4 linked regions of the Homo sapiens genome follow. The protein of the gene in region 1 interacts with the protein of each later gene in a biochemical or structural test. Each region holds a gene or a part of one and is shown on either strand. Other genes may lie near its edges.

Region 1 (7,027 bases):
GGCCTTACACTGGTTGCACTCTGTTCTCCAGGCGAAGTTCTGGTTTCCACAACCCCTGCATACAATTACATCACAGCAGAAATCACCAATTGAACTAAGGAAGATAAACAAGGAAAGGTGGTGTGTGAACAGGTACACACTCACTATCAAGAGGATCTATGTACACCCATGCTTTAGGGCACAGCCTCAGGCAGCATTGCACCCACAGGACAGGTCAAATCAATCTTCAGAAGGCTCTGAAGCGTCCAGTGAATGGCTGACTAGTGTCCCTAACCAGCCATCAGGGTCATCATTCTGTTCCTCTAGACAGAGCAATCCACTCTAGAGTGGGGATGGGGTGAGGGAAGGGTGGCTTCACTCGTAGGGTATCAATTTGCCAAGACAAGTACATACGGATTGGGACACTGCCAGTCTCCAGCTCGGTGCTGGACGTTTCCTCCTCCAGAGGGGTTCCCTCGGGAACCCCGGGGTCCTCTTGGAGGGAAGCCTCCTCTATCTCCTCCACGGCCTCCCATGCGACCCATGGGTCCCCCAGGACCTCCTGGGCCTCCTGGACCTACAACAAGAACAACAAGAAACAGCAAATCATTTCTCTGTAGCACCAAATTTGCTATAGGAAATAAAAATCACTAAGTAAACCCACAGATACTACTGCTGTCATTTCCCCATCACCTGTCCCGTGTTTCCGTGTGGCTCAGGCCATCAGCCCCCTTCCCTGTGAGGAGCGTGTTCCACGTGCTCTACAGAAACAGAGCTCCCACAATTTTTTTTTTTTTTTTTTGGAGACGGAGTCTCACACTGTTGCCCAGGCTGGAGTGCAGTGGCACGATCTTTGCTCACTGCAACCTCCACCCCCCCAGATTCAAACAATTCTCCTGCCTCAGCCTCCCGAGTAGCTGGGATTACAGGCATGCACCACCATACCCGGCTAATTTTTGTATTTTTAGTAGAGAGGGAGTTTCACCACGTTGGCCAGGCTGGTCTTAAACTCCTGACCTCAGGTGATCCGCCCACCTCAGCCTCCCAAAGTGCTGGGATTACAGGCGTGAGCCACTGCACCTGGCTGAACTCCCACAATTCTGTAAGGAATAGGCATGTCTATACAGACACAACCAAAGCTGAATAAATGGCAGTCTGGAGTTGACAGGCAGAGTGGCTTCCAGCCTCCCATGTTCTTCTCTTCCTTTTATTCCCAACAAACATTCATTGTTAGCTCTCGATAGTCTAGTATTGACTCTACACACAATTTTATATTTCTTCACTCTAATAATCAAGTTTCTCAAGGGTATGAAGTGTACTGAAAACCTTTTAATGCAACATAGGAGCTCAGAAAAAGTACCTCCACGGAGTGGTGGTGGCATGCCTCTGCCCTCACGGGGTGGCAGACCACCCCGCATACTGTTCATTGGAGGCTTCTTCCGAGCAAGGGAGACTTTAAGTTTGCTCCCTTGAAAATCTTTCCCTGGAACAAGACAACAGAACATCAATTACTCCCCTGTACTCCCTGTTCACCAACTCCACATCATCATCAAATGACCACTCCCAGATGCATTAGGTCTGCCTGTAATCTTCTCTAAGATCTTTAATGACAAGGCCAGAAAAAGGCTTTTTTTGAGATGGGAGTCTCACTCTGTTGCCCGGGCTGGAGTGCAGTGGCACAGCTCACTGCAGTTTCAATCTCACTTGCTCAAGCAATCCTCCCAAGTAGCTGGGACTACAGGCACGCATCACCATGCCCGACTAATTTTACAAAATTGTTTGTAGAGGCAGTGTCTCACTAGGTTGCCCAGGCTGCTAGTGAACTCCTTGGTTCAAACAATCCTCCTGCCTTGGCCTCCTGAAGTGGTAGGATTATAGGCAAGAGCCACTGTGCCTGGCCAGAAAAAGGCCATACTTAAATACACTTAAAAACCTTCCTACAGCCTGACCAACATGGTGAAACCCCATCTCTACTAAAAAATACAAAAGTTAGGCTCAGCGTGGTGACATGCGCCTGTAGTCCAGCAGCTACTCGAGTGGCTGACGCACAAGATTGGCTTGAACCTGGGAGGTGGAGGTTGCAGTAAGCTGAGATGGCTTGTGTCACTGCACTCCAGCCTGGGTGACAAAGTGAGACCATCTCAAAAAAAACAACACAAGCAAAAAACACTGTCTACCATAAGGAGGAAAATAAGCTGGTGGGAAGCTGACTGCATGACCAAGAAAACAGAACCAGGACTTGTTATTTGACACTTTCTTTGAGACAGAGTCTTGCTCCGTTGCCCAGGTTGGAGTGCAGTGGTGCAATCTCAGCTCACTGGAGCTTCAAACTCTCCGGGCTCAAGTGATCCTCCCACCTCAGCCTCCTGAGTGGCTGGTACTATAGGTATAGGAGTGTGCCACAACACCTGGCTAATTTTTGTATTTTTTTTGTAGAGACAGGGTTTTGCCATGTTCCCCAGGCTGGTCTCAAGCCCCTGGATTCAAGCAATGCACCGATGTTGGCCTCCCAAAGTGCTGGGATTACAGGTGCAAGCCACTGGACATGGCCAAGTCATTCAATGCTTTCAAGTTGGTTTTGTCTGAAGTGAAATCCCACCATTAATGTCAAGGCCTCATTTAAATATATATATTTATCTATATGCAAATGTACACTGGCTAAGATGTTCTTTTGAAGGGTTTTCTGTACCTTCTGATAATCTGTGCTTAGGAAGTGTTTGCCACTTTAAGCAAGGTTGATTTGTAATACTAATGCCTCAAAATAAAGGGATCTCCAAATCCAGGGTCAATGGCTGGGTGCTACTACTACTGCAGGGAGACCGGCCATCTACCTCCCCCAGGAAGAGATGGAAGGTCTTCTTGCTCCTATGGTTCACAAGTTTCTCCCTCATGCCATATTCTATAGCCAGGGAGATTAAGAATGCCAGTGAGTACATCTCACCATCAAACCATTCCACGGCAGCCTTGGCAGTGGGTGGGTCTTCATAGGACACTGTGGCATCGCCTTTGGGCTTTCCTGTTTCCTTGTCCAGGTAGATGTGGATCATGGGTTGCCCAGTTCTCTTGTTCATCTAGACAAAGAATAGCATAGTTAGGCATGACTAGAATATACTAATTTGGGAGAAAAAAGTCCAGGCAAAATCCAGGAAAAGTACCAATTTCTCACATGTAGTAAGTCACTAAATGTCACCGTTTCTCCGCTTTTAAGTTTTTCAGAATTCTAAGTTATTTTCTCCTCTATCCCTGCTTTATCATAAAAACCAAAGTAGACCAAAGTGTGGAAGTGAACAGGATAGGCCCCACTCCTGCCTTAGCCATCTTCTGATGCTGGTTTGCCTGCCCTGGCATTTTCTATGCCCAGACAGGTATCCACTGAGCACAGCCACCTCGTAGGGGTAGTCAGACTTTGATACCACCACATAAGACATGACTGGCATAAAGAAAATTATCCTTAAACCGTGAAGGACAGTGTACAGGCTGTGAGTGAACTACAGGGATTCTTGGTTAGTCTAACACAGCCACTACTTCCTCCAGTTAGAACAGATGACTAGTCTTTCAGCTGAATATCAGATGTGGTTGACTTGAATTCAGGAGCTACCTTGTATAAGAATATCTTCACGTGTACTTTTTTGCATTATATATGCACACGATCAGTTTAGTCTGTAATTGTTTACATATATCCAGTAACACAAGAGCAATCTATTTATAGGACTTAAAAAAGATTACAACAGGATATATATATTGATACCTCTGACTTAAAAAAAGGAACGTGATACCTAAAAACTGAAAAGAAAATATGGCAAAACTGTGGTATGAATAATGTGGAAATGCATTTTTTTCTTTTTTGTGAGACAGAGTCTCACTCTGTTGTCCAGGCTGGTCTCAAACTCCTGGGCTCAAGCAATCCTTGGGATCCTCCTGCCTTGGCCTCCCAAAGTGCTGGGATTACACATGTGAGCCACTGTATCCAGCTTGGAAATCTATTTTAACATCTTTATTTCCAAAATTTTGATGGTAAATACTACTTTCTTAACCAGGATAAACTCCACATTCCTCAATAAACTACATGTTATATACATATTAAAAAGCAGTCTTTTTAATATGCTCAAGCCTGTACTCCCAGCTACTCAAGAGGCTTGAGGCTTGAACCCAGGAGGCGGAGGTTGCAGTGAGCTGAAATTGTGCCACTGCACTCCAGTCTGGGCAACAGAGCAAGACTCCATCTCAAAACAAAAAAGCAAACAAGGAGTCTTGCACAGGGTAGAATGTGACAGTAGACACTAAAAGCATTTTACTTTTGAGGTGTGTGTGATATCTGTGCACACACACACCTACAAGCAGGGAGAAATCACCTTATATAAGATTTACCAAAATCAACTGTATTTCCTTTTTTTTTTTGAGATGGAGTCTTGCTCTGTCGCCAGGCTGGAGTGCAGTGGCGCCATCTCAGCTCACTGCAACCTCTGCATCCTGGGATCAACTGATTCTCCTGCCTCAGACTCCCAAGTAGCTCAACTACAGGCGCGTGTCACCACACCCGGCTAATTTCTGTATTTTTAGTAGATACGGGGTTTCACCACGTTGGCCAGGATGGTCTCGATCTCTTGACTTCGTGATCCACCCACCTCGGCCTCCCATAGTGCCGGGATTACAGGCATGAGCCACCACGCCCGCCCAAAATCAACTGTATTTTTTTTTTTTTTTTGAGGCGGAGTCTCACTCAGTCACCCAGGCTGGAATGCAGTGGCGCCATCTCAGCTCACTGCAAGCTCCGCCTCCCAGGTTCATGCCATTCTCCCGCCTCAGCCTCCGAGTAGCTGGGACTACAGGTGCCCGCCACCAAGCCTGGCTAATTTTTTGTATTTATAGTAGAGACGGGGTTTCATCGTGTTAGCCAGGATGGTCTCGATCTCCTGACCTCGTGATCCACCCGCCTCGGCCTCCCAAAGTGCTAGGATTACAGGCGTGAGCTACCGCGCCCGGCCAAATCAACTGTATTTCTATACACCAGTAATAACCAGAAAAGTGTCATTTAACGAAGACCCTTAACCACAGCAACTTGAAAATAAACGAAACCTAGAAGTAAAACTAGTAAAATTTGCAAGACCTTTAAGGAAATCGATAGTCTTTACTGAAGATCTAAATAGGCTGGGTGTGGTGGCTCACACCTGTAATCACAGCACTTTGGGAGGCCTAGGTGGGTGGATCACGTGAGGTCAGAAGTTCAAGACCAGCCTGACCAACCTGGTGAAATCCCATCTCTACTTACAAAAATTAGCCAGGGGTGCTGGCAGGCGCCTGTAATTCCAGCTACTCGGGAGGCTGAGGCAAGGAGACCCGGGAGGCAGAGGTTACAGTAAACCAAGACTGCGCCACTGCAATCCAGCCGGGTGAAGGAGTGAGACTCTGTCTCAAAGTAAAATAAAATAACAAATAGAGACAGGCCAGGCACAGTGGCTCATGTCTGCAATCACAAAACTTTGGGAGTTGAGGCGGCAGATCACCTGAGGTCAGGAGTTCAAGACCAGCCTGACCAACATGGTTTCACCAAACCCCATCTCTACTAAAAATACAAAAATTAGCTGGGTGTGGTGGCGGGCACCTGTAATCCTAGCTACTCAGGAGGCTGAGGCAGGACAATCGCTTGAACCCAGGAGCCAGAGGCTGCAGTGAGCCGAGATCGTGCCACTGCACTCCAGCCTGGTGACACAGCAAGACTGTCTCAGTAAATAAATAAGCAAATAAATATACAAATAAATGGAGAAATAAAATCTTCATGGGGAAAAAAAGATCACTCAGTATCATAAAAATGTAAATTCTCCTGAAATTACTTCATAGATTTAGTAAATATTCAATTGGGGTTTTAAGGTTTTGAGGTTTATGGGGTTCATAAACTAACTCTAATACAGAAGAGCAAGAACTGAAAAACAGTCAAAATCCCTGAAGAAAAAATCTGCGTTACTAGCTATGAAGAATTAGCATAAAGACACAATAATTTGAGGTTGGGTGTAGTGGCTCATGCTTGTAATCCCAGCAATTTGGGAGGCTGAGGTAGGTGGCCACTTGAGGTGGCCAGGAGTTAGAGACCAGCCCGGCCAACAGGCAAAAATCCATCTCCACTAAAAATATAAAAATTAGTTGGGTGTGGTGGCATGTGCCTATAAGTCCAGCTACCTCAAGAGGCTGTGGTGGGAGAATCACTTGAACCTGGGAGGCTGAGATTGAGCAACACTCTGTCCCTAGGGGTGGAGGAGGGAAGGCCGGGCGTAGGGGATCACACCTGTAATCCCAGCACTTTGGGAGGCGCCAAGGTGGGCAGATCACCTGAGGTCAGGAGTTTGAGACCCGCCTGCCCAACACGGTGAAACCCCATCTTTACTAAAAAGACACAATTAGCTGGTGGCGCACACCTGTAATCCCAGCTACTTGGGAGGCTGAGGCAGGAGATTCGCTTGAACAGAGGTTGCAGTGAGCCAAGACTTGCGCCATTGCACTCCAGCCTGGGCACCAAGAAGGAAACTCCGTCTCAAAAAAAAAAAAAAAAAAAGGCTAATCTTTTTTAAAAAGGAACAAACCATAAGATACCTAGAAAGAAGTCAGGCAAAGGCAACCTTAGAAAACAACTCTCAACATCAATTCAATCTCTTTAAAATGCTCTGTGGTTTAAAGTTCTGCCAGATGACCTGGTTATGCTTTTACTGACCTTAACAACCCCACACTGCTTAAAGAAGTCTGCCAGATCATCTAGAGTCACACTGTCATTTAATCCTTGTACATAAATTGCACTGTTGTCAGAGTCTTCATCTGGATCTACAGGTGGGCCTTTCAGAGACAACAAGACAGGAGAATTATTATCATGTATCTATAGGGGTTTCTTAACTACCTGATCACTACTGCCCAAGGATATTCATCATAAATCTAAGAAAACTACCAAGCATACTAAGAAGAATGCTATCAAACTTTTGGTTTACTTCACTTAAGGCAATTATGAGTAGATGCTCACATAGGATTTCCCAAACTGTCCTTGACAGCAAGAATATCACACTGG
Region 2 (7,456 bases), on another chromosome or scaffold:
GCCACCAGAGTATAGGCAGGGCCACGGGAAAACTTGGATTCCACCTAAGCAAGCAGCCAGCCTCCCCCTGACCCTCTCTTTTCAGCTGTGCTCCCACTCACTTCCCGGGATTGGAGAGCAGCCATAGGCCTCTCATTGGAACGGAGGAAATAAAGAGGATATGGATGGGGTGGAGGTGAGAGAGGGAAAAATTAAACACGCAGACAGAACAACTAGCTTTGATACCCAGAACTTCAACTTCTCGCTCGTTTGGTTTTCGTTTTTCGACTCAGTTCGTGCGTGTAGGGTTGGGGAGGTGGTAATAATGGTGGTGCTCTTTTTTCTCTTCTATGGGGGAAAATGAAGTTGCAGATTATGGCTCCCCGGAGTTAAAATTTCTAAAGCATTTTCCTTTGCTTTTGTTCTGTTTTGTTTTAGTTTGTCTTTATTTGTCTAGTTTTTGGTGGTTGGTAGGTTTGTTTTTGTACATAGTTCCTTGGTCCCCAGGATATTTAGGTAAGTGTCTCTGGTCAGAAACAGTCCATTTTCCTACCCTTCCCGCGTCTCCCCCCACCCAAACCCCAGAACCATCCTGCTCCTTAAAACCCCTGCTCGGGTCTCCGCTTTCCTTCCCCCCACTCCCCACTCCCCCGAATGCTCCCCCCCTTCTCCCCTACCCTATACTCCAATCCCCACACCCAGCACCCCAGTCCTCAAGGCTAGGGGACAGCAAAGGCAGGAAAATCAGAGAATGGGTGGAGGAAAGAGAGCGAGAAGGGACTCCCCAAATGCAGGCAGGATAACGGACACTCCAAATCCGAGGGGAGGCAAGCAGAGGAAAGCCCCCCAAAAATGCCTCCTCAGCTCCCCATTCTGTCCCGCCCGACACCTCCCAGCCCCCTCAGTAAGTGGCAGAGAATTTCATCCGCTTCTGCTTCTGTCTCTGGTTGCAAAACCACACCCGCACCACGTTCTTTTTGAGGTCCAGTTTCTCGGCGATGGCGGCGATCTTCTCGGACGAGGGCCGGGGCTGCACGGCGAAGTAGGCCTCGAGGGAGCGCTTCTCGGGCGCGGCGATGGAAGTCCGCTTGCGCTTCTTCTCGCCGCCGTTGAAGAGCTCAGGCTTGTTCATTTTCTCGCGCTGGGCGCCCTCGGCCTCCTCGAGCCACGCCTGCAGGATGGGCTTGAGCGCGATCATGTTGTTGTGCGAGAGCGTGAGCGACTCGAACCTGCAGATGGTGCTCTGGCTGAGTGAGCCCACGCCCGGGATCTTGAGGTTGGCCAGCGCCGAGCCCACGTCGGCCTGCGTCACGCCCAGCTTGATGCGCCGCTGCTTGAAGCGCTCCGCGAACGCCTCGAGCTCGCGCGGGTCCGTGTCCGAGTCGCAGATGGACGCCAGGCCCGCTGCGCCCACCACGGCCGCCGCCGCCGATGCCGCTGCCACCTGCCCGGCCGCCGCCGCCGCCGCTGCCGCTGCCGCGCCGTGGTGCGCCGCCGCCGCCACCAGCCCGGGGTGCGGCAGCCCGGACGGCATGTTCATGGCGGCCGCCGCCGCGGGGTGCGACAGGTGGCCCAGGCTGTGCATATGCGGGTGAGGGTGCGCGGAGCCGCCCAGGAGCCCGCCGCCCGGGCCGCCGCCGCCGCCCCCCGGGCCGCCACCGCCGCCTCCCCCGGGGCCGCCGCCCGGGCCGCCGCCGCCGCCCGGGCCGCCACCGCCCCCCGGGCCGTCGTGGGCGCCGCCGCCGCCGGCCGCCGCGCCCGCGCCGCCCGCGCCGGCCATGAGCGCGAGCGACGGCGAGGAGATGTGGTCCAGCAGATCGCCGGGTTCGAGCGCCTGGTGGTGGTGGTGGTGGTGGTGGTGGTGCGCCAGAGGCACCGTGGAAGTGGACGTGCACGGCACGCTGTTCATCGTGTGGTACGTGGCGTCCGGCTTGAAAGGATGGCTCTTGCCCTGGGACACGGCGATGTCCACGGCCGCCAGCGCCTCGGCCCGCGCCAGCAGCGTCTCGTCCAGGCTGGCGAAGAGGTTGCTCTGCAGCTGCAGGCGACACAAACCAAACCAAAAAAACCACAAAACCAAAAGAGCAAAACAAAACAACAGAAGAAACACACACACAGGCCGGAAAGCACAGCATGCGAAGGGCAAACACAAAGCAACCAAAATAACAACGGGTTTGGGGGCAGTGGAGAGCGGGAAAGACGGAGAGGGGGCACATTGACGACCAGGGAGGGGGCAGACGAGAAGGGATGGGAGCGTGGAGAGGGGGACAGAAGTAGGGAGAAAGGGGGACACAAGAACACATTCCGGAAACGGGCGTGGGAGACGAAAAAGAGGGAAAAGAAGAAATGGAAATGTAACTCGCAGCTGGGGACCCGTGTCACACACCCGAGCACGCACAGAGACTGCCTTTCTGAGGCGTGAAATTAACAGAGAAAGTAGAGGGAAGTCGAGAGTCCTGGCCCCAGCGCTCCCTACTCCGATCGCAGGCGCCTGACGCGGAGGCAGAGGCAGACAGGAACACGACATTAAGGGCCGCCGGACAAAACGTGCCTCGCTGCGGGACTGCTCTACACCCCCTGCCCGCAGTTCCCCGCACCGGGACCTGCACACACCAGCCCCCGACATGCAGCGTTTCGGAGACGGGGAGGGGCGGGCGCGCGGGCCGGGGCCGCGGGCGTGGGGCGCTTACCGGCGGCGTGGGCAGGCAGGCCCGCCGGATGGCCTCGGAGCTGGAGTGCAGCGACGGGTACTTGTGCTCAGGGAGGGTGGGATGCATGGCAAAGTGAGGCTGCTTGCTGTTCATGGACATCATCGTGGCGGCTTGGCATGTATATCCACAAACACTCCGAAAGTCCGCGGGAAAGTGCGTACGCCGGCTCACCCGGCCTCCCTTCGGAGGCTGCAGCCGCGGCGGTCGCGGCGGCTGGCGGCGGCCCCGCCGCGGGCTGCTGCTGCTGCTCCTGCTGCTGCCAGGCGCTCCCTCTGACCGCGCAGAGCGCCGCGCGCCGGCCTCGCGGTCCCGCTTCTCCGACAGCTCTAGCCCCGCGCGCCGACGGGATGCACTCCTCTAACACCTGAGCCCCACTTCTCGCGGCCGTCCCGGGGAGCTCTCGCGAGAGCTCGCGGCCCCACCGCGCTGACAGGCATCAGCTGTCTCCGTCTGTCTGACGCGCGCTCTCCTTCTCGGCGGCCCCGTGCGTCTGCGCGCGCGCGCGCTCGTCCGGCCGCGACCAGCGCGTGGGAGCCGCTCTTATAGTGACCACCAGCAAGGACAGCGCAGGTGATGCACCTGTAGCTACCCGGGCATGCGCACTGCCCGCCTCACCTTTCCCACCGTGGTCTGGAAAGATCAGAAGGTCCAGCTATTGTCTAAGGGTGGGCACCTTTTAGAATAAAAAAGACGAGATGCGCGCACGCCCCTCTATGTGTGTGTGTGTGTGTGTGTGTGCGTGCGTGTGTGTGTATGTGTGTATGTTTCTTCTCCCTGATAGCAAGCCTTGAATATATGAGCATTACTTAGGCATTCCTCCTCTTCGGGATGCCTAACAAGCTGTTGTATAATGTATACAGCTGGACATTTCTACGTTAAATTATGCCCGCGCATTCCTCTGTATACAGTATAAATAACAACACAGAAATGCAGAAGGTGCTGTCTTTTGCTGCAAGAACCTGTTTCTTTAAAGGTTTATAAATAGGTTCCTGGAGAATAATCGCGGTGACAGACATTTGTTTGAAGCAGTCAGACGCTATTGATTTCCATATAATTTAATTTCCTCCGCATACTTTTTTGTTGTTGTTGTGAATATAACTGTGTCAGGCACCGCCAGTGACAGCCACTTAGGAGCCACAAGGAGCGTGTGCTTTCTACTCGGGAAAAGCTGTTGAAATGAAATTGTGCATTTCTCTTATTGTTTGTCTCCTTCAACCGTGTACAAACCCACGTTTCAAACGAGCTCCGGGTGATCTAAGGCTTCTAGTAATCAAAAGGAAAAAACAGTTAACAGGGTGTAGTTGGGATCCTTCCTCCCCTCAGCGTACACACACACACACACACACACACACACACACACACACTTTATGCTGGGAACTCCAGGAAAACTGCTTCAGAGAAAAGGGAATAAGATGTTGAAAAGAGAACTTTCTTTTCCCTTCCATCTTTTTGGCTTTTTGCCTCATATCTCTGCCTGCTTATATATATTTTTTTCAATAGGAGACAGATCAAACTAACTTACAGGAAAGCTTGATTCAAAAATATTAAATCAAGCCAATTTGAAAGAACGGGGACAAGCTCTGGTCCAGTTTTTAAATTTTTAAAAAATTATTGTGAAATTAAGACCTAAAAAGAATAAATCAATTAGCCAACCTGTTATATGGCCCTTATGTGGTAGCAGATCAAGAGCCTCCCAGGGGAGCCACAGTTCAGGTGCCAAAGTCCCCAGGGAAGGAGCACTTGCTCGCGGTGATAATAACCTAACAGCCCAGATGTTATCACATCTGCGGTAAGAGAGCTGGAGAGCAGCAAGGGGCTGCTTATGGAAAGCAGAAATCAGATAATCTTTCTGTTCTCTCCCACACCAAGGAAGTCTGTATTTCCACCAAAGAGCAGATCTCATTTCTATAAACCTAAATTTGCGTTCCCGTGGATTTTATCTTTCCTCTGCACAAATGCATGTGTGTTTAGCATACCCACTCACCTACTCAGATTCCAAGAAGAGCCCACAGGCGTCACCATGGCTTTTTCTTTCTTTCTTTTCATGTTCCCCCCCACCCCCTCCCTTCCTTCTAGCTCCAGAGGGAAGTGAGAAGGATGTTCACTTGCTGGTGAGAGAAGGAGCTGGTTCCATCCATTACGCAGTCCCCTGGGAGCGCTAAATGCAACTTTATCTCAACGGGGAGTGGACGATGAGCAGGACGTCGCTAGAGGGAAAGAGTGAGTCCTACGGTAGTCATCACACCGGGAGTCCGGGCTTAACCTAGTCCTTCCTGACACCCCTGGTGGCCGTTCCCTGCGCTCTCTCTTGACGGGAAAGAAAAGGCCCCCACAGAGGGTGAGGGCCTGGAACCTGCCCCTCCCCTCTCAAGGAAGCGCTGGTCTTTAGGGACCCTGAAGGGTACAGGAGCAACAGAAAGGTAAACAGTACAGGTTTGCGGCCGGGTGGGGCCTCTGAGAGCCAGGTGAGCTCCTGAGTACCCAAAAGGCACCTCGGTTCACCCTCCAACCCTGGGAGGCTTCCATTAAACCCAGCGGAGAGATGCCACCTTAGCCTGAAGTTAGGAGTTAGTCCCACCAAGATTTCCTTCCCTGTTCACCTCTCTTTCGACAACAGGAATACCCCACCTTGGGGTGAGGCCAGATCTTTGCTTGGGGTATTGGGTGTTTTGATGGGACCAGAAACATGAGGGCTATGGGTACAATCCTCCCTCCCCCTCCCACCATGGATAGGAAGCCCATCTAGGATACATCCATCTTCACTATAGCACTTAGTGCAGAGTTTGTCACAGGAAAAGTACCCCACCAAAAAACACGTGTGTAGGAAGGAAGAGAGGCCAGTTTCGGGTAGCCTGGGGGAGGGGTGGTGGCCTAGGGGCTGTTCAACAATCCAGGGCTGGTTGGAGATTGCAGGAAGATCCCTGGGTGGGGGGATGGGGGGGTCTACATTCTCCTTAAAAAGGAGGGGTGTGTTTTCCCCAGGCAGAGCTGTAAATTTTTATTCCAGCCTGTTCTTTTTCAGGAGCCAATTATTTCACTCCGCCCTCATTAACTTGCTACCTTATCTTCCTTCCTCAAATTCTTGCTGAGCGGTAGTCTGGCCCAGTACAAGACACTGGAGATAAAATGAGGTATACAATATGAGTACCTGCCCTGCAGGAGGTGACAGTGTATGTGCGTGGGGAAGCCACGGATAAAAGGCATCTATGACACAGGTATAACAGGTGTGATGAGAGGGATGTGTATAGAAATATGGAGCGGGTGATGCTTGGACAGTTATCATGCCTCATCCTCGTTGGTTCTCAGCCCAGGCTAAAGAATAGGGCATGCTGGCACATCTGCAGGCAGTTCCCTGGACCATATCAAGCCTCTCCCTACTTTCCTCCTGATGCGTAAAAGGAAAAGGTGGTGGGCTTGGGCTCAGCTCACCCATATGTCACTGTTTTGTTTTCCTGGTTTGGCAACTGCTGTAACTCGTTGGCCCCTGCCTGTGCTAATGATACCCACATGGGGTCTGAGCCTTGGCATAGATTCCTGGGCAATTTTTTTTCCTTCTTATTTAATGACCAACACAGATCTCCTCCTCCTCCTCATCTCATAGCTTTGCATTTTATCAAGAGAAGGATAATGAATGCACAACTATTGATTTCCAAGGAATTTCCGCCCCCAGGGACAGGGAGTCTATCATGTGGATCAGAGACACATTTCTTTCCCTCATTAATTAATTTTCTCCTCCTCCTTTGGCAGGCCTCACTTCCCGTTTCCTTTGGCAGCGCCCTTTTCCCGACCTAAGGGAGCAGACCTTCGTTGGTTGGCGTGAGGACTGGCGGGAGAGGTTTTGTGCCAGGATCCGCACTGTCTGGGGTGAACGCTCCTCACCTTTGACCTGAACCGCCAACTTCCCATCCTCCACTTTTGGAGAGCGCGCCTGATAGCTGCTGCCCACCTGGGCACTGACATCCTCCTTCCGACCGGGTGCGGAGAAAGTTAGTATTTGACTCCGCAGCCACTACTCGCCCCACCTTCTCACCTCCGAGGGGTTGAACCCGAGTTGTCTGTTGGGGTTTAGGGACTCAGGATCGGGTCTGAGGGACTTCGACATAAGTGCGTGGCGGTAGTGGGTATACAGGGGAGGGGGGCCGGGCCCCTCGCTCCTTCTGGAAACCGGGCCCCACTTGCAGGCCCGGCCACCTTGGGTTCTGGTGGCCGAAGCCGGAGCTGTGTTTCTCGCAGACTCGGGGAGCTACATTGTGCGTAGGCAATTGTTTAGTTTGAAAGGAGGCACATTTCACCACGCAGCCAGCGCCCTGCATGCAGGAGAAGCCCCCAGGGCCCAGGGTCGGCTGGCTTTAGAGGCCACTTAGGTTGTTTTAAGCACATGTGAAAGGGCAGACAGCAGGGGAGCAGGATATGGGTAAGATCTTCGGGTCTCAGAACAGGGGCTGCCCTTGGGCTGTCCCGGCGCCCTGGGCTCTGACACTGAAGGGTGGAATGGAGGAAGGAATGGAGAAAGGACGGTGGAACTTTCGCTTCCCCTCTGGGCCGCCTTCCCAGGGTCATGCCTGAGCTGCTTTGATCCCAGTGTCGCGCATCTTGGTCCGCTACCTCCCAGGCGATAGCTACTGGGCTCCTCGCTGGCCTCACTGGGGGCCATCCCGGGCAGTGGCCTGCCCTCCGAGGCCCGCGGGACCCAGCCCAGAGCTGAGGTTGGAGTTCTCCGGGCCACGTTCCGGGTCGCTTAGGCTCGGAGATTTCCCGGAGACCGT
Region 3 (5,570 bases), on another chromosome or scaffold:
AGTGAGGTTTGTCACCTACACAATCTTTGCCACAATCCCTGACAACCTCTACTGTAGTTTCATGCCCACGTAGTCTCTCACATGTGGTTTTGGTCACCCAGTCTGTCTTGCTCGCCATCAAACAGTGACAGGGCTGCAGTCCCCGTTCCCTTCTCGTAGACATTATTTTGTGCATACCATCACAGGTTCTTGTACAGTACCTTGACTATTCATCCAGGCTCAGTTATTTTCTGAAACACAGCCACAATTTCCCACATAGACACACCATCAAAAGTCTGTGGTCACAACTTCTGCACACTCTCACACACAATCACAGCTTTCCACGTCTCTGACACACACATGGTTACCGATATGCAGTCCCTACTATTGTTTCTCACACACGCCATCACACCGTTTCTCTCACAATCGACCTCTGCCTCACACCCTCCACACACAGTCATGCGTGTCACGCTCAGCTAGTCCTGACAACATCAGAGAAAAAGTGCCAGCAGCCTCCAGCATCACTTTGAAAAATATATATTTACAGGAACAATTCCCCATTCTCTGGGACTCTTTAGAAAAAAAAAAGGTCCATTTTGGGGAAGTAAAACAAACAGTGGAGACGAGTGTAGCACTGTCCCCCAAATCACCAACCCCCAGGTCCCAAGGCCTGGGCTGGGCCAGCGCTAACAGGTGAGCCCAGGAGTCTTTTGAACCCACTCTCTCTTGCCTAGAATAGAGACAGGACAGGCTTTATGTCCCCCATTCCTCCCTCCCAACTCCAGGGACATTGAAAGGGTCCTTTGTACCCGCCCGCAGGAAATTGGGGGGCTGGGAGGGAGGGAACTGAAAATTCATGTTTGGTATCAAAAATAAACACTTGGAGTGGGGGAGGCGGCAGGAAGATTCCCCCCCAAATCCCTTCCTTCCCACCCACCCCACCAAATATAGGAAGAGATGACTCCCTCTCCCCTATTGAAAAGCCCCATTTAAAAATAGATTATACTATCAAAATGGCAGCGGGGGAGAGACAGGGAGACCTGGAGTACTGGCTGGAGGGGCCCCCCAGACGGGGACCACCCCCCAAAAAAACCCTCCATTGGGAGGAAACAGGCAGGACCCCAGGGAGGTTGGCAGACAAAGGAATGGCTTCTCAGGGGGAAGAACAAAAGGGACATTCCTCCCTGGCCAAAAAGTTGGTTGAAAAGGATAAGCTGTCTGAGAGAAAGGTTGGGGAGGTGGAAATTTCTATTCCAAGGGTGTGATTCTTCCTTGGCCAAGACTCCCAACCCATTAAATGGTACAAATTCTTCCTGGACCCCTGAGTATGGCCAGGAATAATAAAACAAAACAAACTAACTCTTCTACTCACATCCAAAAACGCAGACAGGGCTCCCTCATCTCCCCAAGGGCAGGCTGAGAAATAAAGAAAGAAAGGTCGTTCTCAAGCCAGACCTCGATTGTCTTGTCTTGGGGAAAAAAGTGGGGAGGTGGGGGAGATGTCCTAACCACCCTAAAAGGTTAGGTCAGGCTCCTCCCAGTGGCCTTCAAAAAATAAATAAATAAACCGCCCCTACCATTGAAGTAGGAGACGTGTAAGGGCGGCCACTGGGGGACTGACAGAAAACAGAGAAGTTGTGGAAGCTGTGTGTTTTCTGTGGAGGAGATAATGAGAGTTACTCTTGGGAGTAATTCTTCCCAAGGATCCCCACCCCACCACAATCAGAGCATGAGTCTTTCAGTTGAACTATGTTTCTCCTTGAGATGGCTGGCTGGAGAGAGCATGGATGGAGTGACCCCAGAAGGGGTGGTGGTGGTGGTGGTAGTAGTCATGGCTTCTGGGGCCCTGGGGAGAGCACCACGGGGGTCGAGAGGCCATCCACGCTGATAGAAGGGATGTGCACCTGGGCGCTGCCACTGGATGGAAACTGGGGGCAAAAAGAGGGAGAGGTCACAGATGGGGGCCATTCTTGGGTCTCTCACCCTGTCCAAAACGGGGAAAGAGGATCCTACCTGGAAGGAGAGCTTGGCCGGGCTACGGGGCGCAATGGGACTCAGGGTGCTCCAGAAGTGAATGCTAGGAGGCAGCGAGCTGGGTGTCAGCAGCACCGGGGTCTGTGGGGAGAGGGTGGTCGGAGCTCAAGTGAGTAGAAAGTAGATGTGGGATGCTGGAAGGGACTTGGTCCCGGCCCCACCACAGATTTCCCACTCACACTCCCAGGGTCACTCCCCAAAGTGCACACACCTAGATGGTAACCATGGAGGCCATGCCTATGATCTCTCAAACTCTGCAGACACCCCCCACTCCCCACTCCCGAGAGCCCACCCTCAGTTGCTGAGACCTCATTGGTCAAGACCACCCACAAGACCCTATCCAAATGCTGCTCTCAAACCTCTCAAGTCACCATCCCAACAGCTCAGGGTCAACTTCCAACTCATGTCCCACCCATGAAACCCCATATGCACATCCCAGACCAAAAAGCCCTGCTCAGGTTCCTTAAGCCACACCCCAACCTAGAAACAGTCCCACAGAAAGACCCTCGGTCCCACCCACAAAAGTCCCCAGCCCTGCCCTTCACTAATCAAACCCCATCCCTCCAGCCAGCATCAGCCCAGTCAATCACACTCAAAGGCTCCACCCTCTTCAGGAACAACCACACTCACCCTCCTCTGATTCCTGTCAGTCACCCGCCACATGCCAATCCCATTGGTGCTGGCGCCCACACACCCCACCCCTCCGCAGGCACTCACCAATGTATGCGTAGGAAGCAGGGATGGGGTCAGCGCCGGCCCCGGAGCCTGGAGGCCGGAGCCACTTCCCGATCCTGGGGTCCGTTCGGGTCCCGGCCCACCTAGCAGGCTCGGGCTGAGTGGAAGCTCTAGGTCCCGGGGCTTCCGGCCCTTCTGCGGCTGGGAGATCTCAGGGCTGGAAGCCGCATGGCCGCCCGCCTGCCCTGCGGTGTCCATAACAACCGCGGGCAGCCGGGCTGGCACGCCCTCCTGTGGAGGGACTTCTGGCTCGGCCTTGGTGGTTTCTGGCACAAACCCTCTCTCCCCCGCAACTTCCAACTCTTCCTTGGGCCCTTCTACTTTCACTTCTGGGGGCAAAGCCCGGCCCAAACCCGGCTCCACATTAAGCTCTTCCGATTTCAGGTTTGGGGCCTCGGGCGGGGTCAGGATGACCTGGTAGAGGAGCAGGCACAAAGAGGGTGTGTAAGGATTGTTGGGACCACAGGATTCTCCTGTGGGCCACCCAGTGATTTCCCCGGGAAGGTGGCACTTGGTACTCAGGGCATGACTGCACATCAGAGCAAGTCCTCCAACAGGACATAGGACTTCGTCAAGGAAGTAGGGCTTCCTCTGGGGCAGGTCCTCCTATGGGACAGGGGACTTGGGGTGAGACAACCTGAAGCGGGTAGGAATCTGAGGGATACCATCCTCATTCATTAAAACAGTGGTTCTCAAAAATTTACCTTCCTCTGGACCAGCAATATCTGCCTCATTTGGTAACAAGTTAAAAATGCAAATTATTGGGCCCCTCCCCAGCCCCACAAATTCAGAAACTCTGGGGGTGTGCCTGGCAATCTGTGGTTTAACAAGACCTACAGGTGATTCTGATGAGCACTAGAGTGCGAGAACCAGTGCATTAAACATATTCCAGGCACCTACATGTTCGGCAGCTACTAACTGTAGCACAGTATTCTCCCCTTTCTGTCTCAGGATTTGTGTAGCTCTCTGCCCCACCCCTCCTTCTAAGAGGATGTCTTCCTTCCACCATTATCTCCTTTAACGGGACAGCTATGTCTCTTCTACCAGCCTCCCTCGTCATCCGGGGATTACACATCCCTCCTCTTTACTGCCTCCTCTTACTGAATTTCTATATTCCAGTCCTTACCTGCAGAGGCAAGCCGGCCTCTTCAGCCTCCAGACAGGCCTCCAAGGGGCTTGGACTGGTGCTCCTGCTCCCCGAGGGGGGCGCTGCTGCCCCTGCAGGAGCTGCACTGGGGAGCACCACAGCAGGCCGAGGATGAGGGGGTGGCTGCGGCTGCAGAGACTGGATGGTGAAGGTGGAATAGAGGCCCGAGCGCATGTACTCGTTCCGGCTGCTGCGTGCCAAACCGCCTGGGCCTGCCATTCCTGCACCCTTGGGTGTGCCTGGCTTTCCAGAGACAGTGTCCCCTGGGGCGGCATGTATAGCAGCAGGGGCCACATTTGGCATGGTGGAGGTAACAGACACCTCTGGCTGGGGCGGGCAGTCCTCAGTGGAGCACCCTGCGACCTCAGGGTAGGACACAAACTTGTAGACGAACTTCTGGCCGCTCACCTTGCGGATGATGTTCTAGGAAGGGAGGAGAGGAACAGAGGGCCTTAGAGGAAAGGGGCAGGCTGGAGGCAGGGTGTCAGGGGGGAGGAGGGGGGTGGAGTGGCATTTCTCTTCTCCTAGTGGCTTTCTTCCCACTTGCTCCTCTCCGGCTTTCCCGTCCCTCCTCTGTAAGTTTCTCTCTCAGCCCATTTCCTCTCCCATTGGTTTCTACCTCTTTCCTCTCCCGCCAGATTCCCCTTATCTATATCCCTCCCCAGTTCCTCCCCTTTCTCTCTTCTCTCCACAATAATTTTTTCTTTAAGCCCCTTCCCATCCACCCCTTTCCAAGCCTCCCTTTGTCACTCTCCAGGTCCGTCTATCTGATTTTCCCACTCCCTCCACACTGTAGCTCCTCTTCACAATGGGGCCCATGAAGGGCAGTAGGTGTGGGAGCAGGTCTTCTTCCTGGCTCCAAGAACCAGAGGTTCACAGGGCCAGGCCTTGTGGGTGACTGTCAGGACACAGTTTTGGAGACTAGCAAATGCAATAAGACAAGAAAATGAAGTAACTGATATAAATGTTGGAAGAAAGTAAATTAATGTAGATGGATGGGGTGATGAATTATTAATACAGAGGATTATTTGAAGCTAATGATACAGAAGTGGAACAGGGCAAGGTCACTGCAGAGGAGAGGGTGAGGAGGCCTCATTATTAATACCACTGTGGAGGTTGAAGCTAAAATGGTAAGAAAATGAAGTAACTAACAGCAATTAGACAAGAATATTAAAAATACTGGTATAAATATTGGGAGGGGGCCTATATCAAGGCTGGCTTTGCTGGGTCACAGAGCATGTTTGGGGTTTTTCAGGTCTGGTGGGTCTCAGAGATGACCTAGTGTTCCCAGAGGGCAGAGTGAGATAGCCTCATTACTAATATTGTTCTGGAGGGTTGAGCTCAAGGAATAAAATATGAAAATGGAATAAATGCCATAAACTATGAAGGGTGTGCAGCATATGACCAGGGCAGTTCTGGGAGTGTGGAGGCACTAGGGCATTCTGTGGAAGTCTTAGTGCTGGTCAGATATGTCACAGGGTGGGCCTGTGTTTCTCGGAAGAGGAATAAAAAGGGATATTCATGAATATTGTTTGGGAAATTTCAGTAGAAGGATTAAGAAAATGAAATAACTGGTATAAATATTGGGGGGAGGAGAAACCCAGCAGTGGCCTGGGGGTCTGAGAGGGCAGGATGGGGGAAATTTTAAATTTTAGCTGTAGGAATAAGATAATGA
Region 4 (7,027 bases), on another chromosome or scaffold:
TGTCCTAGATTCTGAGCCACCAGGGGCTTGGCAGTCAGGCTCACTTGCCAGAGCCAGGGGCAGAAAGGGGCTTAGCTACACAGTCAGAAACTAGTTCCCATCTAGTCCCATTATAGGACCAAGAACTGTCACGTCCTTTAATATATGTCATCTCACTTAATCCTCATGACAAGTCTGTGGGATTGAGAAAATTATCCCTTAACTGAGGCCCAAAGGTATTAGATAATTTGCTCAAGGTTACCCAGTTAGGACATGGCAAAGCCAAGATTTAAACCCAGGGCTGGCAGTGTGCAAAGCATTTAACCTGGGCCCCCCTGCCTCTCACTGTCCTCATTTGGTATTTTGCCTCCTTCCCCCAGGAGGTCAAATAGTGGAAATCACACCAGATTGGCTGGAGGCAGACAGCAACCAGAGACGGTTTCCAGGGCACAGAGCTTCAAACAGCTGTCCCACTTTTGTCTTCTTCTGAACCTGGCTCTGAACTTCACACTTTGAGTTTATATTTCCAGAAAGGCATGAACCCACACAAATACACACATCCATAGCAGAGTCCAGCCGAGTTTTCATCAGTGCCACTAACGACGATTAGATGGCAATTGTTTAAATCCACAGAGCCACAATTTGTTGAACTGTGGATGGAGTCTTAGCCTCTTGGAGGCATTTATTCTTCTACTCAATCTGTGAACCCCTCCACAGTAATCTTGCCAAGTAGGAATGGACCACCCTGTTGGGGCAGGAACCGCAGATGTGCCCAGTCTGATGGATAGGTTGGAGCTTCTGCCTCTTGCTTTAATTTGGATTTTTGGGTGTTTGCCTGTTTGAGGGGTTCTTTGCTCCTTTGTTGTATTTGGTTCTGGTTGAGGAGACACAGCCATGTTCAACTTTACAAAAACATGTTTGGTATAATCTCATTAAGGATCAGGCCTGTGTCACAGAGAAGTGTCACCCTTTACGAGAAATAGGATAACAGCCCTTTTCAGACCAGGTAAAACATTGCGGGGGAGGAGAAGTTTTTTGGCTTTATTGTTCTCAGAGAACCACACACGCCTAGCTGATAAGGCATTAAGAATACATGTTTAGATACGAGCCCCTGCCTCATGCACACATGCACACTCGCCTTTCGTTTGATTGTTCAAAGCAAAATCTCCACTCTTTCCCACCCCCTCTGCTATCTATTCCTCAAAAGAACCTCAAATAATATGTATTTGCATAAGAGAATCAATATTATTTTGATAAGTTTGAATGGAATGGAGGCAGGATTCAAAACAATTGGCCTGGCAAGAGACCTGCTACTTCAGACCCCTGCGGTGGACTTTTGGGCTAACTGAACCTTGACAGGTTTCAAGCCACTTGCCCTGCTGATCTCTGCAAAAACTCAGCTTCTGCTGCCTCAGTCCAATTTTTAATTCACATTGCATTCATTCTTTCACCCCAGGACATTTCTCTCATCCCAGCCATATGGCTTATTTTCTGTCTGTAGACCTAACACCCTTGGGACTAGATAGAAACATTTAGAGAGCAGACTCCAGAAAGGGTCCCAGATAAGCTCCTCTTCAGGGACAGCAATGGTGTTCATGTCACTGCCTGCTCATCTCGGGCCCACTGGAGTGCCTCCCACCCCAATTGTGCAGTGGAAGTCCACCGGAGAAGCAAGAGGGGACTTACAGTGGATTTTGAAGTCCTTGTACTGTCTGTCTTCAATCGCTACCACGTACAAAGCTGCCCGGTCTGGAAACATAAGCCCTCCAGGTTTCTGTTGATGAATTGTGGGGAAATGGGTCTCGTAATCTATTCACCTGACAAAGACATCACATTTTGAACTGCACATAGAGTCACCAGACAAGCACCCCCTTGCCACCATCTCTCATGCAGTGGACTGTCACCTTGTCTGGGGTGAGGGCTAGGACAGCAGTGCTCAATTTTTATTTTGGAGCAAGGAAAATTTAAGGGACCTAGGTGGAGTCAATAGGACAAATGAGGTGAGGTGAAGGTAAATCCAGTGAGGAGCAGTGAGAGATGTTACGACTTTGGCCTGGAGAAGCCCAGATGAATAGCACACCTGGCTCTGGCAGCCATGCAAGTCCTAAGTACTTGCTGACCGAAACGGACCTTTAACTCGACAAGAGAGAACGGATGTCTGTTATTGCAAAAGAGGCTGCGGTGAGACCCACGGAAGTCCACTCTGATGGTTACACATGCTGGACCCGGGGCAACCATTCTGTTCCCTGATACAGATCTGCTCTAGAGAGAGGGGCTTGGGGCAGTGACCTCCTGGCCTCAGTCTTCTCTGAAGTCTTCGTATGCCTCCTAGGCTGCAGGCCTTGGGTAGAGGAGCAGGACAGCCAGCCGGCCAACGCGGGGACAGCATGCAGGACACTTACCAGCCACTTGTCCCTGGCAAAGATCACCGTGTTGAGCATGGACTCATAGAACAGACAGTAGCCCATCCACTCGCTGATGATGATGTCCACCTTCTCCACAGGCAGCTCCACCTCTTCCACTTTACCCTTAAATATGGTGATGACTGGAAAATAAGAACCCCAGGGCCATACTTTGCAGGGACCCCACCCAGGAACCACAAGCACCTCACTTCAGGGCCAGATCTCCAGGTTTCAGCCCTATTCTGATTCTACTTTTAGGATATGATGTAGCTCACCCTTTACCAAACTAGTTTATACCAACATAATTGAAAACTACCTGCATGTTTTCCCTGTAAAATAAATTGAGCCATTACTATGTGCCTGGCATAGCGCTAAGCCCGTTATATGCGTGGTATCACGTCATCCTTCCAACAGCCCTGTGAGGTAAGCACATTACAACTGACCCTTAACAACCTGGCTTTGAACTGCACAGGTCCACGAACACGCAGATTTTTTTTTTTTATTTACACCAAGTGTGCCTGCCTCCCCTTCCACCTCTTCCAGCCACCCCTGAGACAGCAAGGCCAGCCCTTCCTCTCCCTCCTCCTCAGCCTATTCCATGTGAAGGCAATGAGGACAGAGACCTTCATGCTGATCCACTCCACTCAGTGAGTGGTAAATATATTTCCTCTTCCTTAGGATTTTCTTAACAATTTCCTTTTCTCTGGATTACTTTATGGTAAGAATATAGTATATAATACATATACCAGATATGTGTTAATTTTTTTTTTTTTTTTGAGACGGAGTTTCACTCTTGTTGCCCAGGCTGGAGTGCAGTGGCGTGATCTCTGCTCACCACAACCTCCGCCTCCCAGGTTCAAGCGATTCTCCTGCCTCAGCCTCCAAGTAGCTGGGATTACAGGCATGTGCCACCACGCCCGGCTAATTTTGTATTTTTAGTAGAGACGGGGTTTCACCATGTTGGCCAGAGTGGTCTCAAACTCCTGACCTCAGGTGATCTACCCGCCTCGGCCTCCCAAAGTGCTGGGATTACAGGCATGAGCCACCACAGCCAGCCAATGTGTGTTAATTGACCAAGTTATCAGCAAGACTGCTGGTCAACAGTAGGCTGATAGTAGCTTACTTTTGTGGGAGTCAAAAATTATGCTTGGATTTTCAACTGTGTGGGGGATTGGCACCCCTAACCCCTGTGGTAGTCGGGGTCAACTGTTATTTTTGTTTACAACTAAGGAAACCGAGGCTTAGAGAGGTTGAGTAGCAGCAGTGGAAACAGAGCCCAGATCTGATATGACATGACTCTAAAACTCTTCTCAAGGCCCCCACCCCTATGTTAGGTTACCATGACAATTCAAACTCAAAGAAAGCATAGATGCCTCCTCTATTGCTTTTGCATTTGTTCACAGCCAGGCTCAATACCAAATGGGTGCCCTTCTAGTGTTTGTGAGGGAGGAAATTGATATTTTGATGAGAGCATGGGCTCTGCAGTCAGGGAAACCTAGGTTTAAGTGCCAGATCTTCTCACCATTAGCTGTACGACTTTAGACAAGTTACTTGACCTAACTAAACTCCAATTCCCAAGTGAACAACCATGAAAAGCAATATCAATTTAGAGGGTGATTGTATTGATCAAATGAAATAACACATGTGGAGTGCCAGGCCCATAGCTAAAGCTCAACAGAAGGTGGACATTATCTGACATATTCCTGCTTGTTGATCCACAGATGGAGAGGGGAAGCAGATAGGGCCAGGGTCAAAGCCCCTGTCCCCAGTGGCTTCTTCTTATGAGTCACCTTCAAGAACTTCAGTTTCCTCTGTGGGAGGAGACACTTCTTAGTTGAGTTTTTGATAAACTGACATAGACATACACATAATTTTGGAGTCCCTTTTTGTATTTGTTGCTGTAAAGATCTGAGCAAGCTAGTTTAGATACCACTGTTAAATTGGCAGGCTGATGTATTGGTTGGTTTGTTCTTTCTGAACATTTCCTTTGAAAGGTTACATATATTCATGCTCTGAAACTCTCATTCTGCAATATCCTCTGAAAAAAACTCACACAATGCCTGAGCTTTGCTGGGAAAAACAAACAATGGCCTGTACTTAGGAGTAAAAATCAAAAGAACCACATCTGCCTAGAATCTGAGTTTCATGAAAATTAATTTGGACTGAGGCTCCTGGATGGCAAAGAGCACACCGTTTGCTGGCTTTATTTAGTTTCTTCACAGTGAATAATGCAGGTGATGGAGTGTCCATTAGCAGCTTCTAATAACAGTTTACTCTCCACTATGTGGTATTTAATCAAGCTTTAATTGGATACAGCCTGCTCTACAAGGAGTAAGACACTTTGTACACATGCATTGACCCTGGTCACTCTACAGTGAGGTTCAGTCTTGGGTGGCCCTCCTGACTGGTTACTGCTCAAAAGCCCCTACCATTAAAAAGTATGAGCAGGAAGAGCTATTCTCCAAAAGTTTTGGTGGGAGTGGGAGGGGTAGGTGTTGAAGTTTCTCTGGGTCTCAGAGACCCCAGGGCAGGAACTCAACTGAGAGCAGGGCCCAGGGTGCACTAAGAAAATTCATAGAGTGGCAAAGTAAAGGATTTTTTAAAATGCAAACATTGTGCCTAATTTATTTCTTATTTTGAAAGAGAACTGACAAATATATGCATGACTCACCTGCCTAATCATTTGCATGCAAAGCCTGGCTTGCCTTAGTTTTGTAAACTTAAAAATTGTCTTTAATGGCCTCCCTTACTTTTTTTTCTTTGCACGTTTCTTGAAGGTTCTTCCCTAATGTCTGCCTGTGTCTGTGTGGCTATGGGTCAGTTCCTCCTCCTGCATTTATATCATGACCTCTCTGTAGCCCTAGAAGATGTTTTCTCCTGCCTCCGGGGCCTCATGACCTCTACCCTGAGTGTTTAGTACAAGGCTCCACCCATGACAATTTTTGTGGACAGGACTCTATTAGGAGCTGCAGGAAACAGACAAGGAGTAATCCATCATCAAGTCTAACAAACAGGTATGTATGAAATATTCCTCAGGTGTCCCCCAAAGAGAGTTACTGCTGCTCATGTTCTCTGTGTTAGCCCTCTTATCAATTAGTTGCTGTAACCTCATCAATATGGATTACAAGAGATGATTGATAGATAGACAGACGATATAGAAGACAGATAGATGATAGCTAGATATAGGGGGTCACAGAATAGCAAAAATCACAATCTCTGCTTGCAAAAAGGCAGAAGGAATCAGTTAACCCTATAAAATCCTCAACAGTCTGGACTTCTGTTCTCTTAACATCACCCTTCTACATCTATTCAAGTGCAGACATTTCTCAGTGTGGACATGGCCCCACAGTTGGCTTGGTGAGGAGATGAGCCCTTTGTCAAAGGAAAAGGACCCATCTCCCTTCAATCCAGTGCTGGACTGGCTTTTAGACTCCATTTATCCCCTTTCTCCGGTGCTTTTGTGCTCAACCTGCACAACTTTATGCTGGAATCCTAAAAGGCAGCAACTTACGCTCTTGTTCCAGGTGACAGCTAATCTCAATCAAACATCTCCTCTCTTTTATTTTCCTCATTAGGAAAAAAAAAAAGAAGGGAGGTTGAATCTGAAATTCTTTGCAGTGCCAGAAAGCTGCGGTTCTTCAAATGTGTACTGAGCACTTGTTATGTGTAAGGCATTCTGCAAGATTCACTGGTGGAGACAGCTGGCATCAATAAAAAAAGATGGTGCCTCCAAGTTCCAGTTTGACTGTCATTTTCAACACTTCCTGGGTCCTTTTATTTTTTATTTTTAAGAGGTCACATTCTTTCTGTGCAGCCAAATACAACTGTCCAGCTGAATCACCATGAATATTCTTCCTGCAGTCTGTAGTCACCACCAGCAACCACTTAAACTTCCAGATTCAATTTTCCAATCTACAAAATGCTACCTGTCATGGTGGGGCATATGCCAACTTACTAGGGGCTATTGGCCAACATAGGGCATTAGGCTGGCTCAAGGAAGTGTGTGGGCACACACAGCAGCAGTCTTCCCTTCTCCTCCATGCAAAGGATTTTCAAGGGGGTCTAAGCTATTGATATTAAGATTCCGAGCAGCCGTAGGCTGCAGAGCTCCATGCCCAATCTGGACCCCAAGTCACTAAAACTGCATCAACTCAAGGTTGCACTGAGGTCACCGTCCGGATCCATGTTTTTATTCCAGAAGGATGATGGAAAGTTTGTTCAACGAACTATGACAGGACTCTGGCTGGTAAATTACAGAATGATTAATCAGAACTAAATGCACAGCAGGGAGCAATAGACTCTAAATTGGGAAAACTTCTCCTGTAGCTTCAAGTTTGTAAGTGAGACATCCAGATTTTTAAAAATGGTTTTGAGTGGAATTTTTTCTTTTTGGTTTGAGTGGTTCTTACAGAAATCTAGTCATTCTCATTAATGGTCATTTTTGTTTTTAAACAAATCAGGCCAGCTCAACCTCATTTGAGCCTCCAGTGCATCCATCAGGGTCAGCTGATGCCCGTAGGATCTGAAGTTAGTGATCATTTTTAGGTCCTCACTCTTTCAGAGAGCAGGTCCTGTGCCACACAAGAGGAGGCATGAGGGTCACAGGCATGGGAACATATTATGAGCCTATGAAGCCCCCTGACCCC

The links.
Region 2: the proteins of EWSR1 (region 1) and POU4F1 form a complex in vitro, tested with the Homo sapiens proteins (one study listed by BioGRID).
Region 3: the proteins of EWSR1 (region 1) and ELK1 form a complex in vitro, tested with the Homo sapiens proteins (one study listed by BioGRID).
Region 4: the proteins of EWSR1 (region 1) and PRMT8 form a complex in vitro, tested with the Homo sapiens proteins (one study listed by BioGRID).

What each region holds. Positions count from the first base shown.
Region 1 is NC_000022.11:29,292,262-29,299,288, reverse strand, and holds part of EWSR1 (RNA-binding protein EWS), read right to left. Parts: intron 6,802-7,027; coding exon 6,683-6,801; intron 3,051-6,682; coding exon 2,921-3,050; intron 1,463-2,920; coding exon 1,340-1,462; intron 557-1,339; coding exon 394-556; intron 95-393; coding exon of another isoform or gene 56-94; coding exon 1-55. UniProt on the Homo sapiens protein: Binds to ssRNA containing the consensus sequence 5'-AGGUAA-3'. Might normally function as a transcriptional repressor. EWS-fusion-proteins (EFPS) may play a role in the tumorigenic process.
Region 2 is NC_000013.11:78,600,535-78,607,990, forward strand, and holds the start of POU4F1 (POU domain, class 4, transcription factor 1), read right to left. Parts: upstream 3,019-7,456; 5' UTR 2,793-3,018; coding exon 2,670-2,792; intron 2,621-2,669; exon of another isoform or gene 2,018-2,620; coding exon 881-2,017; 3' UTR 1-880. UniProt on the Homo sapiens protein: Multifunctional transcription factor with different regions mediating its different effects. Acts by binding (via its C-terminal domain) to sequences related to the consensus octamer motif 5'-ATGCAAAT-3' in the regulatory regions of its target genes.
Region 3 is NC_000023.11:47,635,021-47,640,590, forward strand, and holds the end of ELK1 (ETS domain-containing protein Elk-1), read right to left. Parts: intron 4,319-5,570; coding exon 3,875-4,318; intron 3,163-3,874; coding exon 2,731-3,162; intron 2,095-2,730; coding exon 1,993-2,094; intron 1,908-1,992; coding exon 1,809-1,907; 3' UTR 501-1,808; downstream 1-500. UniProt on the Homo sapiens protein: Transcription factor that binds to purine-rich DNA sequences. Forms a ternary complex with SRF and the ETS and SRF motifs of the serum response element (SRE) on the promoter region of immediate early genes such as FOS and IER2.
Region 4 is NC_000012.12:3,564,203-3,571,229, reverse strand, and holds part of PRMT8 (protein arginine N-methyltransferase 8), read right to left. Parts: intron 2,525-7,027; coding exon 2,382-2,524; intron 1,797-2,381; coding exon of another isoform or gene 1,754-1,796; coding exon 1,666-1,753; intron 1-1,665. UniProt on the Homo sapiens protein: S-adenosyl-L-methionine-dependent and membrane-associated arginine methyltransferase that can both catalyze the formation of omega-N monomethylarginine (MMA) and asymmetrical dimethylarginine (aDMA) in proteins such as NIFK, myelin basic protein, histone H4, H2A and H2A/H2B dimer.